Regions from separate parts of the Homo sapiens genome. Here region 2 is linked to region 1. The links come from fine-mapping of genetic effects on gene expression. A gene starts in region 1. The other region holds a variant in brackets. All regions are shown on one strand. Distances are from middle to middle. Region 1 holds the start of JAK3 (Janus kinase 3). Region 2 overlaps JAK3 (Janus kinase 3).

Region 1 (4,514 bases):
CTTTCGCAGCTGTGAAATGGGCTGACTCCCCAGCATCCTCATTGAGGTGGTCTGCTGAGCGCAATCCAGGCCTAAAGTGTCAACTCAATTAATGTGCATTAATTTGTATATTTCTTGATGATGTGCCGGTAAGCGATCAACAAACGCCTGTTAAACCAAACAGGAAGGGCAATTGGCACAGCGGTGTGGTGGTTACTGTGGGAAGGGAAGTCTTGTGGGGGAAAGAACCTTACCAAAGGGACACTTTGATGTCACCGATGCCCAGACCAAGAATGAGCACATTCCTAGTCCCGGGAACCTTGGAGGAGCCCCATCTCTCCCACAGAGAGATTGATGTCTAGTTTTGCCCTTTATAGAAATAAAATCACACACCATAGCCTCTCTATCGTCCCCTCAACATCAGCCAATCAAGTTTTTTGGTTTGTTTGTTTGTTTTTTTGAGACGGAGTCTCGCACTGTCACCCAGGCTGGAGTGCAGTCGCACGATCTTGGCTCACTGTAGCCTCTGCCTCCTGGGTTCAAGCGATTCTCATGCCTCAGCTTCCCAAGTGGCTGGGATTACAGGCGCGCACCACAGCGCCCAGCTAATTTTTGTATTTTTAGTAGAGACGGAGTTTCACCATGTTGGCCAGGCTGGTCTCAAACTCCTGGCCTCAGGTGATTCGCCTGCCTTGGCCTCCCAAAGTGCTGTGATTACACACGTGAGCCACATTGCCCAGCCTTTTTATTTATTTATTTATTTTGTAGGGGGGAGGACGGATTCTTGTTCTGTCTCCCAGGCTGGAGTGCAGTGGCATGATCTCGGCTCACTGCAAACTCCACCTCCCAGGTTCAAGCGATTCTCCTGCCTCAGCCTCCTGAGTAGCTGGAATTACAGGCACCCGCCACCAAACCTGGCTAATTTTTGTGTTTTTAGTAGAGATAGGGTTTCACCATGTTGACCAGGCTGATCTCGAACTCCTGACCTCCAGTGATCCGCTGGCCTCAGCCTCCCAAAGTGTTGGGATTAAAGGCATGAGCCACTGTGCCCAGCCCCAGTCGAGTTTAAAATAAGGCTTCAGTGGCAGTGGCGCCCCACTGCAATCCCAGCTACTCAGGGGGCTGAGGCAGCAGGATAGCTTGAGGCCAGGGGTTAGAGACCTGCCTGAACAACATAGCAAGACTCCCATCTCCAAAACAACAAAAAAATCTTAACAGAATATTATTATTCTGTAATACTGTAACAAAAAAAAATGAAAAGTCAGAGGTGATGTTTGGTCCCAGAAAACGCCATAGTTTTTTTGGTTTTTTAAAAATGTTTGTAGAAATGGAGGTCTGGCTATGTTGCCCAGGCTGGCCTTGAACTCCTGGCCTCAAGCTATCCTCCCGCCTCGGCATCCCCTGTTTATAATCCTCAACGTTCTGCATCCTGGTATGGTCGGGTACCCTGTGTCTGGACCGGGAAGGCCTGGAGGGTAGGGGCTGGGAACTCCGCCCCCCAATCCCTCCTTCCCAATCCCTCCTCCCCACCCCCAACCCCGCAGCCCCCGTCGCGCATGCGCAATGACTCCTCCAGGTCCGCAAGGCAGGCATCTCCCGGCCTTAGTCAAAGCCGAAGCCCAGAGAAGCGAGCGATCGGAGGATGCGAGTCTCGGCTCACGTCTGCCTCGCAGCTTTCCTCCGAGGCCTGGAAGGCGAGCTAGCCTTTGCCCTGGCAGCACCCTGCCCCAGCCCAGCCATCCCCCGCCACCACCATCCTCCCCCAGTGTCTGGGCCGAGCCCTGCGGCATCGCCAGCTCTTACCTAGCGGGCAGGGACCCTGGACTTTCGAAGGGCGGGCAGAGCCGGGAGGCAGCGAGAGGAAAGTCCCACTCGGCTCCTTCCTGTGTGGGCCCCTTGGTTTCCTGAGCCACTGTCATTTACCGAAAGTCAGGGCCCTGCGGGAGCTGGGGGCGGGGAGGCGGGCAAGGAGGGGCAGAAAGTTCCGGAAGCCTCTGCATCAGCCGCCCCGTTCAGACAGGCTGCTGGAGACCCCTAAGCCAAAGGAACTGATGATAGCACAGAGAAGGGTCTGGGTCACACCAGGGGCTCAGCCGACTCTAGACCCACTTGTTAAGTGGGGCTCTGGCCCGGCCCTTATTGCCTCAGTTTACCCATCTGTAGCATGTGTGAGTTGGGCACCCAGTGGAACTAATTTTGCACCCAGGGAAGGAAACCTGGCTGGATTTGCCCAGGAGGGAAGCAGGGAAGTTGCCCCAGAGGAAGGTCAAGTTCTTCTTTGAGGTATTTCTCCCTTAAGACTCAGGGAGACGCTGGGCGCAGTGGCTCACGCCTGTCATCCCAGCACTTTGGGAGACTGAGGCGGGCGATTACTTGAGGTCAGGAGTTTGAGACCAGCCTAGCCAACATGGCGAAACTCCGTCTCTACTAAAAATACAAAAATTAGCCAGGCGTGGTGGCCTGTAATCGCAGCACTTTGGGAGGCTGAGGCGGGCGGATCACTTGAAGTCAGGAGTTTGAGACCAGCCTGGCCAACATGATGAAACCCTGTCTCTACTAAAAACAGGAAAATTAGCCAGGCCTGGTGATGCCTGTAATCCTAGCTACTCAGGAGGCTGAGGTGGGAGGATTGCTTGAATCTAGGAGGCGGATGTTACAGTGAGACGAGATGGCGCCACTGCACTCCAGCCTGGCAACAGAGCGGGACTTCGTTTAAAAAAAAAAGAAAAGACTCAGGGAGAGATAATGACCCATTTCTGCCTGTGGTGCCCTGGGCCCAGCCCTAAAAAACCAGGTGGATCCGGCCTGGCCTCTTGGAACTTGTGATCTGGCGCTGAGACAATGAGCAAATGAAGGAGCCAAATCATCGCAGACAACAAAGAAAGCCAGGGTGTCAGGACAGGCACAGACTGGAACTTGGACCCGAGGCAGGACAGGGAGCTGGCCAGGGAAAGGGTGCTCCAGGAGGAGGGCACAGGATGGGCAAAGACCTTGAGAGGGCAGTGATCTTAGCAGCTTGAAGAGCAGTCAGGAGGCCAGGGGCAGGGGTGAGATGAGGGGGAAGGGGACTGCAGGGCGGTCAACAGGGGCAAGATCGTGGGGGGACAGGGGGATCAGGGTCTTTGGGAGAAGGGTGGGTTTTGCCTGGAGCATAATCTGGAGCCACAGGAGAGTTGGAAGTAGGAGCTGTTATAAATAGAAGAGGCAGAAGGCCCGGGCAGCATCCAAATGCAGAGACTTGGGCCAGTGTTCTTAGGATAATAGGATCAGAGCCCCGGAAGTAGAGCTTCAGGAATAGACTGACGAAGTGGTGACCGGGTACAGTGGCTCACATCTGTAATTCCAGCACTTTGGAAGGCCCAGGTGGGAAGATTGCTTGAGCCTAGGAGTTCGAGACCAGCCTGGCCAACATGGTGAAACCCCATCTCTACTAAAAATATAAAAATTAGCTGGGCGTGGTGGCATGTGCCTGTAATCCCAGCTACTTGGGAGGCTGAGGCAGGAGAATCACTGGAACCCAGGAGGCAGGCGGAGGTTGTAGTGAGCTGAGATTGTGCCACCGCACTCCAGCCTGGGCGACGGAGCAATACTCTGTCTCAAAAAAAAAAAAAGGAATAGATTTAAGAAGTTGTGGCCAAGAACAGTGGCTCACACCTGTAATCTCAGCACTTTGGGAGGCTCAGGCAGGAGGATGGCTTGAGCCCAGGTGTTCGAGACCAGCCTGGGCAACATGGTGAAACCCTGTCTCTACAAAAAATACAACAACAACAAAATAATAAGCTGGATGTGGTGGCATGTGCCTGTAGTCCCAGCTACTAGGGGAGGCTGAGGTGGGAGGATCACCTGAGCCCAGGAAGTTGAGGCTGCAGTTAGCTGTGGTCATGCCACTGCACTCCAGCCTGGGCAATGGGAGTGAGATCCCGTCTCAAAAAAAAAAAAAAAAAGACTTTTCATCTCTGTATCACCATCACAAGTCTTAACACAAAATGGTTTGGTAAGTATTTTGTTGATCTTAACTGTTCAATCAGCCAGAGGCTTATTGGACACAGCCTGTGTGCAGGGAATCGGGGACAATGCAGACCCAATCCCTGTCCAGGGGAGCTGACAGTCCAGCAGGGGAGATGGCAATAAACAAGCTATTGCCCAATAATTATATCAGTTGCCCCTGGGACCGGTCTGCTAAGAGAGATGACTGGATCTGGGAGGGCTTCCTGGAGGAGGTGGCTTTGATTCTGAAATCCAACAACAAGTGGGACTAGCCAGAGAGTGACCTGAGAATGTGGGAGTGTGGGCAGTTCTGGCAGGCAGAACAGCCCAGGCAAAGGCCTGGAGGCTTCACGAATTCACAGTGTTCCTGAGAAGAGCAGGATGTCAGGGACACGGGGGGCTGAGACTCATTTGATGGCGTGGGTAGGGCCGCGTGGGTCAAGGGAAAGAGATATAGATTATGTCCTCAGCTTAGTGGAGCTTAGTGGAGCCACAGCTGACCTGCGGCAGGAAGTGCCAAGCAGAAGCTTAGTTGTAGTGTTTTCTTT
Region 2 (4,000 bases), 22 kb before region 1:
GGACACAGACACTTCCCCAGCCCCAGGGCCAGAGTGGGGCTGGAGGGAAGGACAGGGCTACAGTAGTAGTGGGGGTATATGAGGGAAGGCTGCAAGGATGTGGTAGCTGGAGTTTTGAGAGATGGATAAGAGTTTTCCAAGGAGGCAAAAGTGGCAGAAAAGCTTTGCAGGTGAGGAGGAGCAGCAGAAGCTTAACCTGCATGAGAATCCCTCTCACCAGTCAGAAAGTTGACCCTGCACAGCCAAGGGGTAAGCTCTGACCATTTTGCAGGGGACAGAACTGAGACCCAGAGAGGGAAAGGAACTTGCCCACTGTCACACTGCATGGAAGGGGCAAAACTGTAGGCTCCAATACTTGGGCTCTTAACCTCCTTACTCTGAGCCTTCTCACGCTTGGCATGCTGTTCCCTCTGCCAGGAATGCCTTTCCTTCCCTTGATTGCGTGAAAAGTTCCTGCCAGGTTTGGTGTCATCCCTTTGTGCCCCTTGTAGGGTGAGGACAGAAAGGGTCCCATTGGACAGGTGGGAAAACTGAAGCCCTAGGACACTCAGATACCATTAGGGTGGACTGGGACCCCAGCCTTTCCTGCCCCCTTTCAGGATCCCAAAGAGATACACGGGCTCCCCTAAAAGGCAGAGTCCCAGCCACAGCAACTGCTCTTGTCCTTGGCTTCCTCCAGAGAAACAGAGATCGGGGAGCAGAAGTCAGATCATACATTTAAAGCTACATGAGGGCCGGGCGCAGTGGCTCATGCCTGTAATCCCAGCACTTTGGGAGGCCGAGACGGGCAGATCACGAGGTCAGGAGATGGAAACCATCCTGGCTAACAAGGTGAAACCCCGTCTCTACTAAAAATACAAAAAATTAGCCGGGTGTGGTGGCGGGCGCCTGTAGTCCCAGCTACTTGGGAGGCTGAGGCGAGAGAATGGTGTGAACCCAGGAGGCGGAGCTTGCAGTGAGCCTAGATTGCGCCACTGTACTCCAGCCTGGGCGACAGAGCGAGACTCCGTCTCAAAAAAAAAAAAAAAAAAAAAGCTACATGAATGTCCCCATTGGAAATAAGACAGGAAACTCAAAACTAGGTGCTGTAGTCCCAGCTATTTAGGAGGATAAGGCAGGAGGATCACTGTAGCCCAGGAGTTCAAGACCAGCCTGGGCAACGTAGCAAGATCCTGTCTCTTAAAAATAATAATAATAAATTTAAAAAAAAAAAAGCCTGGGTGCAGTGGCTCATGCCTATTATTCCAACACTTTGGGAGGCTGAGGTGGGAGGATCACTTGAGGTTAGGAGTTCGAGATCAGCCTGGCCATCATGGTGAAACCTCATCTCTATTAAAAATAAAAAAAATTAGCCGGGTGTGGTGGTGCACACCTGTAATCCCAGCTACTCGGGAGGCTGAGGCAGGAGAATCGCTTGAACCTGGGAAGCAGAGGTTGCACTGAGCCGAGATCGCACCACTGCACTCCACCCTGGGTAACAGAGCGAGGCTCTGTCTCAAAAATAAAAATAAAAATAAAAAAAATAAAAAGAGAGAGACAGAAAAGGAAACTCAGGGGGCCAGGGCTTAAGGGGTTGGGAAGATGCGAGAGTCTTAAATTTGGTTCCTTGCTTCTTTGGGCCAGGACT[CAGAG/C]AGCCCCACTGACACATATGCCCATCTGTCTTGAACCTTAACAAATTGCAAAGGCCACAGGCTATTCTACAGGCCACGGGAGCCCCCCCAAATGCAATGTCATGGGGGTGTTCCTGAAGTAGAGGACCCTCATAAGGCCTCTGAGGCCCAGAGAGGGGCAGCTCCGGGCCTAAGGTCACACAGCCAGTCAACAGAGACCTAATCCAGAGGTCTGCGGGCAGGAGCTATGAAAAGGACAGGGAGTGGTGTTTGCCCTCTGGGTGAGCAGTGAAGGCATGAGTCTCACACCCCCGGCTTCCGCTCCACAGCATGTCCAGCTGGGGGCCCAGGGCGCTGAATGATGGCCGGTCCTGTGGGCTAGGGGCCCAGCACAGCTTCATGAGCTCGTGAACCTGAGGGGCGGGGGACAGATAATGGGGTCGTGCCTGAGCAGTCCAAAGGACACAACTCCCATTCAGCGTATTTGTTTTTGTTTTTTTGAGACGGAGTCTAGCTCTGTTGTCCAGGCTGGAGTGCAATGGCATGATCTCGGCTCACTGCAACCTCCGCCTCCCGGGTTCAAGCAATTATCCTGCCTCAGCCTCCTGAGTAGCTGGGATTATAGGCACGTGCCACCACGCCTGGCTAATTTTGTATTTTGAGTAGAGACAGGGTTTCACCATGTTGGCCAGGTTGGTCTCAAATTCCTGATCTCAGGTGATCCACCTGTCTTGGCCTCCCAAAGTGCTGGGATTATAGGCATGAGCCACCGCACTCATTCAGTTTTAAAACACAAATTAAATTCCATCCCATCTCTGCTCCAAAAACTCCCATGGCTCCCTATGGATCTTACTTATTTATTTATTTGAGATAAAGTTTCGCTCTTGTTGCCCAGGCTGGAATGCAGTGGTGCGATCTCGGCTCACTGCAAACCCTGCCTCCTGGGTTCAAGCGATTCTCCTGCCTCAGCCTCCCAAGTAGCTGGGATTACATGCACACACCGCCACACCTGGCTAAGTCTGTATTTTTAGTAGAGACGGGGTTTCACCATGTTGGTCAGGCTGGTCTTGAACTCCTGACCTCATGTAATCCACCCACCTCGGCCTCCTAAAGGGCTGGGATTACAGGTGTGAGCCACCGCGCCCAGCCCTTATGGATTTTACAACACACTTCTCCTTTCGAGACTACCCTGACCAACATGGAGAAACCCCATCTTAACTAAAAAAAAAAAAAAAAAAAAAAAAAAAAAAAAAAAAAAAAAATTACAGGTGGCGTGTGCCTGTAATCCCAGCTACTCGGGAGTCTAAGGCAGGAGAATTGCTTGAACCTGGGAGGCGGAAGTTGTGGTGAGCCGAGATTGCGCCATTGCACTCCAGCCTGGCCAACAAGAGCAAAACCACGTCTCAAAAAAAAAAAAACAACAAAAAAACACCACCTCTCCCTGATGCCCTCCTTCGCTCATCTCCATCCCTCCTTCCCTCATTTGTTCCGGGCAGTCACATCTGCCTCCATCGCACTGGTGCTTAAAGGCACCCAGCTCATTACCTCCCCAAGGCCTTTTTCCCTTCCGTGTCCTCCACTGGAAATTTCTTCTCCTAGCTTTACTCATGGGTAGGCTCCTCCTCCTTCCAGCGTCGGCCCCGTAAGAGGCCCTCTTTGACCACCCCCACCCCACCATTTCCCTCTGTTCATCTCTTTCAAGGCACTTATCACTACCATAATTTTGTCTTTGTTTTGTTTTGTTTTGTTTTGTTTTGTTTTGTTTTGTTTTGTTTTGAGACAGGGTGTCACTCTGTTGTCCAGGCTGGAGTGCAGTGGTACAATAATGGCTCACTGCAGCCTTAACCTCCTGGGCTCAAGCAATCCTCCTGCCTCAGCCTCCCTGGTAGCTGAAACCACAGGTGCATGTCACCACACCGGCTATTGCTTGTATTGTTTGTAGAGACAAGGTCTCACTATGTTGCCCAGGCTGGTCTTGAACTCCTGGGTTCCAGTGATCCTCCTGCCTCAGCCTCCCTAGTAGCTGAAACCACAGGTGCATGTCACCACACCGGCTATTGCTTGTATTGTTTGTAGAGACAAGGTCTCACTACGTTGCCCAGGCTGGTCTTGAACTCCTGGGCTCCAGTGATCCTTCTGCCTCAGCCTCCCAAAGTGTTGGGATTATAGGCATGAGCCATCGTGCCCAGCCTAGAATGTTCTTATCAGATTTTGCTAGTTACTGGGAGGACAGGGTCTTCAGCACCCAACAAGTCCTGGCACACAGTTGGCACTCAATAAATGTTTTTGGCCTGAGCAAATTAATTTATCAATGACCAACTGCATGTCAGACACTTCCACAAAGGTTATGATTATATGATTATAAACCATGAGAGGGTGGGATGTGGTGG

The links. PIP is the estimated chance that this variant, and not a neighbour inherited with it, causes the effect. A credible set is the group of variants that fine-mapping cannot tell apart.
Region 2: its variant is the best candidate, but not a certain one, in a credible set for the expression of JAK3 in whole blood (INTERVAL, PIP 0.83).

Annotation. Positions count from the first base shown.
Region 1 is chr19:17,846,164-17,850,677 of GRCh38, forward strand. It overlaps JAK3 (Janus kinase 3), which reads right to left and starts at 1,819. Exons shown (of 24, transcript NM_000215.4): 1 at 1,783-1,819.
Region 2 is chr19:17,824,888-17,828,887 of GRCh38, forward strand. It overlaps JAK3 (Janus kinase 3), which reads right to left. Exons shown (of 24, transcript NM_000215.4): 24 at 1-2,023. The coding sequence ends at 1,856. Among named protein-coding and RNA genes, the nearest start is that of INSL3, 5.4 kb to the left of the region's middle. The variant CAGAG/C (reference allele first, on the strand shown) is at 1,628.